2 linked regions of the Homo sapiens genome follow. The protein of the gene in region 1 purifies or fractionates together with the protein of each later gene. This does not show direct contact. Each region holds a gene or a part of one and is shown on either strand. Other genes may lie near its edges.

What was found.
Region 2: the proteins of NECAB1 (region 1) and UTP4 purify together in Homo sapiens (affinity purification with mass spectrometry; 2 studies listed by BioGRID and IntAct, with this or other methods). This does not show direct contact.

The regions. Positions count from the first base shown.
Region 1 is NC_000008.11:90,798,275-90,801,774, reverse strand, and holds part of NECAB1 (N-terminal EF-hand calcium-binding protein 1), read right to left. Parts: intron 85-3,500; coding exon 60-84; intron 1-59.
Region 2 is NC_000016.10:69,160,149-69,163,648, reverse strand, and holds part of UTP4 (U3 small nucleolar RNA-associated protein 4 homolog), read right to left. Parts: intron 3,294-3,500; coding exon 3,187-3,293; intron 567-3,186; coding exon 471-566; intron 1-470. UniProt on the Homo sapiens protein: Ribosome biogenesis factor. Involved in nucleolar processing of pre-18S ribosomal RNA. Part of the small subunit (SSU) processome, first precursor of the small eukaryotic ribosomal subunit.

The sequences.
Region 1 (3,500 bases):
ATAAGGTAATATAAAATGTAAGAGATTAATAAATAGATACTGTAGATTTTTGGTCTTACCATTTTTGTCTGCTCTCCTCAGTATCTGGAAAGGAAAAAGGAAAAAATTTTATCAGCATTTTAGATAAATATTGCAACGAACGTTACACTTACACATAATTTATTCATAATTAAATAAAATACATTCTAATTTTAAGTAAGCGTTTCCCAATTGAGATCTTTCTTTATAATATCTAAAACCTGAAAATGACCCAAATGTCCATGGATAAACAAACCGTGAATGAACAAACCAACTGTGGTATAGCCATACAATAGAATACTACTGAGCAATAAAAATGAATGAGCTATTTATACACACAACAACTTGGATAGAACCAAAAATAACTAGGCTGAGTAGAAAACCTAGATGCAAAATAATACCTACTTATAATTCCATTTATATAAAATTCTTAAAAATGCAAACTAATCTATAGGGACAGAAAACAGATTAAGCTTCCTAGGAATGGGCAGGGCAGGGGAGGGTGGATTACAAGAGGATGTAAGAAAACTTTTGCAGGTGATAGAGATAGTTATTATCTTGAATGTGGTAATGGTTTCATATATGTTAAAACTCATCAAGTTTACACTTTACATATGTGCACATTAATGTAAGTCAATCATACCTCAATAAAACTGGGATTCAACAAAACATAAAAGAAAAATAATACATCATGGGTAAAGAGTAACCACATGTCTATGCTATATCTACTTTATTTATACTTTATTAATCATATTATCTTGGACGTATTTTAAATTGTCTTGATGTATAAGAACTATTTGGCCATCCGGTATCCATTACTCTTTAGTAATGATTTCTAATGTTCTTCTGGAAAGCCTACATTTCCTACATGCTTGGCCTAGGTGCTCCAGTGTTGGGCAGGGCACTTATGTCTGACAAACACGGTGTCATATCCCTCTGGTCACGGTGACTGCTCAGGGATGAGCACATTAGGGCCAGTGAATGACAGGTCATGGTTTTGCCTGAGTGGTTAGGAGAGAGACATACTCTTCTTTCTGCTGACTTTGAACCTAGGAATATATAGGCAATGCACTGCTGTCATTCGTTTTGTTATTGGATATATTGTAGGTTGAATTGTGTCCTCCAAAACCAAATGTTGAAATCCTAATGCTCAGTATCCACGAATGTAACTTTATCTGGAAATAGGGGTTTGGGAGGAAAAGACTTTGATAAAATCCAACCTTCCTTCATGATAAAAACTCTGAACAAACTAGGCATTGAAGGAACATACCTCAAAATAATAAGAGCCATCTATGCCAAACCCACAGCCAACATCACACTAAACAGGCAAAAGCTGGAAGCATCTCCTTGAATGCTAGAACTAGAACTGGAACTGGAACAAGACAAGGACGCCCACTCTCACCACTCCTATTCAACATAGTACTGGAAGTCCTTGCCAGAGCAATCAGGCAAGAGAAAGAAATAAAAGGCATCCAAATAGCAAAATAAGAAGCCAAATGGTCTCTCTTCACTGACGATATAATCTTATACCTAGAAAACTCAAAGACTCCACCAAAAGCCTCCTGGGACTGATAAACGACTTCAATAAAGTTTCAGGATATAAAATAAAGGTACAAAACTCAGTAGCATATCTATGCAGCAATAGCATTCAATCTGAGAGACAAATCAAGAATGCAATCCCATTTACAATAGCTACACAAAAAATAAAATACCTAGGAATACATTTAACCAAAGAAGTGAAAGACTTCCACAAGGAGAACTACAAAACACTGCTGAAAGAAATCATAGATGACAGAAACAAATGGGGAAACATTCCATGCTCAAGAATTGGAAGAATCAATATTGTTAAAATGGCCATACTACCCAAAGCAATGTATACATTCAATACTATTCCTATCAAACTACCAATGTCATTTTTTACAGAATTAGAAAAAACTGTTCTAAAATTCATATGGAACCAAAATGGAGCCTGAATAGCCAAAGCAATTCTAAACAAAAAGAACAAAGCTGGAAGCATCACATTACTTGACTTCAAACTATACAGTAAGGCTACAGTAGACAAAACAGCATGGTACTGGTACAAAAAACAGATACAAAAATGAAACAGAATAGAGAACCCAGCAATAAAGCTGTACACTTACAGCCAGCTGATCTTCAACAAAATCAACAAAAATAAATAATGGGGAAAGGATTCCCTATTCAATAAATGGTGCTGGGATAGCTAGTAGGTCATATGCAGAAGAATGAAACTGGAGCACTATCTAATACTATAGACAAAAATTAACTCAAGATGGATTAAAAATTTCGATATAAGACCTCACACTATAAAAATCCTATAAGAAAACCTAGAAAATATCATTCTTGACATTGAGAAAAAATTGGCCTTGAGAAAAAAGTTATAACTAAGTTCTCAAAAGGAATTGCAACAAAAACAAAAATTGACAAGTGGGACCTAATTAAACTAAAGAGCTGGAGCACAGGAAAATGAACTATCAACAGAGTAAACAGAGAATCTAAAGAATGGGAGAAAATATTCACCAACTATGTATTCAACATATTACTAATATACAGAATCTGTAAAAATTATATTTCAAAAAACAAAAAAGAACCCCATTAAGAAGTGGGCAAAAGACATGAACAGACACTTCTCAAAAGAAGACATACAAGTGGCCAACAAACATACGAAAAAATGCTCAACATCACTAATCATCAGAGAAATGCAAATCAAAACCACAATATGCTATCATCTCACACCAGTCAGAATGGCTATTATCAGAAAGTCAAAAAAAACACAACCACATTCTGGAGCTGCTGCAGAGAAAAGGGAATGCCTATATACAGTTGGTGGGGATGTAAATTAGTCTAGCCTATGGAAAGCAGTTTGGAGATTTCTCAGAGAACTTAAAACAGAACTACCATTTGACTCTGCAATCCCGTTACTGAGTATATATTCAAAAGTAAATAAATCATTGTACCAAAAAGACACATGGCACTCGTATATTCATTGCAGCATTATTCACAATAGCAAAAATACTAAATCAACTTAAGTGCCCATCAGTGGTCAATTGGATAAAGAAAATGTGGTACATATACATCATGGAATACTACACAGCCATAAAAAAGAACAAGATAATGTCCTTTGCAGTGACATGGATGCAACTGGAGGCCATTATCCTGAGTGAATTAATGCAGAAGCAGAAAACCAAACACTGCATATTCTCACTTATAAGTGGGAGCTAAACATTGGGTACACATGAACATAAAGATGGCAGCAACATACACTGGGGACTAATAGAGGGAAGAGGGAGGTTGGGGAGAAGAGTTGAAACACTAACTGTTGAGTATTATGCTCACTACCTGGGTGATGGAATCATTTGTACCCCAAATCTCGCCATCATGTGATACACCCACGTAACAAACCTGCACATATTCCTCCTGAATCTAAAATAAAACTTTAAGTTATAAAAAGAAAAGAAATAGGG
Region 2 (3,500 bases), on another chromosome or scaffold:
GGTATAGAAAAAAGTAGATTAGGTTCTAATTTTGGCTGAGATTAGGTACCTGATCTTATTAGGGCTTGATTTCCTCATCGGCAAGCGTAAAGGTGAATGATACAATCTTTTAGTCACTTTCAACTCTCAAAATCTTATTCCATCCCATATCCAGTTTAATACCCAAGCCCATGTCATCTCTCCTCTAAAACAATCAGGAAAATGAGTACTTCAAAATTCCTCCTCCCTCTTGTGATTCTTTACTCTAGAATCTTAGTGCTTCTCCATTTAAATTGCATCCCATCAAACCAATGCATACTGCTGGCCTATGATGAGCCCAGACCGGCAAGGAAGCTTTACTTCACACAGGAGAAAACTACCTTATATCCTCCAACACCTTCAAAAAAAAGCTCCCCGCAACTGCCCAATATTCCAGCTTCTAGGTTACTATCCAGCAGGAAGGGAATAGAAAGCACTGGAATCTCCCTTACCTGCTGGTCCGAATGAGCGATGACAAGGTTGTTGGTATTGGGGGCAATAGCCATAGCAGTCACTGGGAAATTGTAAGCAGGCACCGTGCAGTGAAGCTGGGAACAAATAACAGACACAAGTGGCAACTCTAAGTGACACTTTTCCTCAGCAAAGATTGAATGGTCTAGGTCAGGGGTTTAAATACTGCTCCTCATAATTCAAAAGGGTTCTAGGGAAGTTCCAAAAATTTCAGGCATTTCCCCAACCAATGAACTTTCATTTCTTTTTCTTCTCTTTTTTTTTTTTTTGAGATGGAGTTTCGCTCTTGTCACCCAGGCTGGAGTGCAGTGGCGTGATAATCAGCTCACTGCAACCTCTGCCTCCCAGGTTCAAGTGATTCTCCTGCCTCAGCCTCCCAAGTAGCTGGGATTACAGGCGCCTACCACCACACCCGGCTAATTTTTTGTTTTTCTTTTTTTTTTTTTTTGAGATGGAGTTTCACTCTTTCTCCCAGGCTGGAGTGCAATGGCATGATCTTGACTCACTGCAACCTCCACCTTCCGGTTTCAAGTGATTCTCCTGCCTCAGCCTCCCGAGCAGCTGGGATTACAGGCACCCACCACCATGCCTGGCTAATTTTTGTATTTTTAGTAGAGACGGGGTTTCACCATGTTGGCCAGGCTGGTCTCAAACTCCTGACCTCAGGTGATCCACCCACCTTGGTCTCCCAAAGTGTTGGGATTATAGGCGTGAACCACTGCACCTGGCTTAATTTTTGTATTTTTAGTAGAAACGGGGTCTCACTATGTTGGCCGGGCTGGTTTTGAACTTCTGACCTCATGATCCACCCACCTCGGCCTCCCAAAGTGCTGGGATTACAGGCGTAAGCCACCGCACCAGTCCTCATTTTCTTAAAAAAATACCTATTGGTTGGCCGGGCGCAGTGGCTCATGCCTATAATCCCAGCACTTTGGGAGGCCAAGGCAGGCGGATCACGAGGTCAGGAGTTTGAGACCAGCCTGGCCAACATGGTGAAACCCCATCTCTACCAAAAATTAAAAAAATTAGCTGGGTGTGGTGGCGTGCACCTGTAATCCCAGCTACTCAGGAGGGTGAGGCAGGAGAATCACTTGAACCTAGGAGGCGGAGGTTGCAGTGAGCAGAGACTGCGCCACCACACTCCAGCCTGGGCAACAGTGCAAGACTCAATCTCAAAAAAAAAACAAAAGGCCTATTGGCTGGGCGCAGTGGCTCACACCTGTAACTACAGCACTTCGGAAGGGCCAGGGCGGGAGGAACGCTTGAGTCCAGGAGTTCAAGACCAGCCTGGGCAACACAGCAAAACCTCATCTCTACTAAAAAAAAAGATTAGCTAGGTGTGGTGGGACTCGCCTGTAGTCCCAGCTACTCAGGACACTGAGGTGGAAGGATCGCTTGAGCAGAGAGGTCAAGGCTGCAGTGAGCTGTGACTGTGCCACTGCACTCAGTCTGGGTGACAGAGTGAAACCCTGTCTCAAAAAAATAAAAAGCTTATTTAACCGCGTACAAAACTAACAGCGTTTGTGGAGAACTGAGAGTAAAGCCTTTCCCTCTGAGTAAATCCATCTGTACAAACTGCTTATAAATGTGTCATTGAATAGGGAGTCTACAGCTCTACACCAGGTTTAAAATAAATAAATGCCTAGGCATGGATTTTTATGTACAATTGCAAAGCATGTGCACGCTACACACAAACACTCTTTAAATGCCAGGCAAGGCTCAAAGACAAGTGCTCAGTACATGCTCCTACCATAATGCAACAAAGGTTACACTATGCAGTTAACAGGTAAACCCATTAAGTGTTGCAGTTTGATGTTATTCTATACACTTTTAATGCTTATTCCAAGTTTTGGGTAGTTCGAATCTGATTCTTATAATGAAGATGAGGACTTGTAAGGGATCACTAATGACTCAATTTATGACTGACAGCGTCATTACTGATTAGTGAAAAATGTTTTCCCAGTATTCCTTTTTCGAAGTTTTGATTATGTTTACCTTGAGATTACAAGGCAAGCCATGAAAGGAACTCTTATTATCTGCAACTATTTGTCTGTGTATATCAGAATTTTCCTCCCGAAAATACAGAAAGAACCTGGATGTGTTTACATCACCCACAGATCATTAATTTCAAATTTCCAGGTATGAATGGGTTTCACTGTTTCCATTAGCTGCTTTTAATGTTACACAGTATAGCTTCCGGGTTCCATAAAAATAAAACAGGATTCCAAACCTGGAAAAATTATTAGTTAAAAAGAAAAAAGTCTGGCCAGGCGCGGTGGCTCATGCCTGTAATCCTAGCACTTTGGGAGGCCGAGGTGGGCGGATTGCCTGAGCTCAGGAGTTCAAGGTCAGCCTGAGCAACACGGTGAAACCCTGTCTCTATTAAAATACAAAAATTAGCCAGGTGTGGAGGCACACACCTGTAATCCCAGCTACTCAGGAGGCTGAGACAGGAGAATCATTTGAACCCGGGAGGCTGAGGTTGCAGTGAGCCGAGATCGCGCCACTGCACTCTAGCCTGGGTGACAGAGTAAGACTTTGTCTCAAAAAAAAAAAAAAAAGAAAAGAAAAGAAAATAAAAAGAAAAAAGTCTAATAAATTTCCAGGTCATGCCAATCTGCCTTGAATCTTGTAACTGCAGGGTGAACTGGCTCCTGTACAATGATTCAAACTGCTGCCATGAAACCCTATGCTCACCTTTAGCTGTTTTACGTTGTAGACATGGACTCCAGCACTGGTACCTGATGCAGCTAGCCAATTCCCATCTGGACTGACTGCCAAAAGACACATGGCCTCCACTGTTCCTGTGAGGACAAAACAGTTACATCTCTGAATTCACACAGTGTCCACAGCCAGACCTGCCCTGGAGATGATGGCAAAAGCCAAGGAGACCATTAGAGTTTTAAATCACTGCCAGGATAATTTGCTGATCACTGTGCAAATTACTTCTAGATGTTAATGTTTCTACTTTTTTCATCTACTTATTTAACCATCCCGCCTGTAAAGAAGGT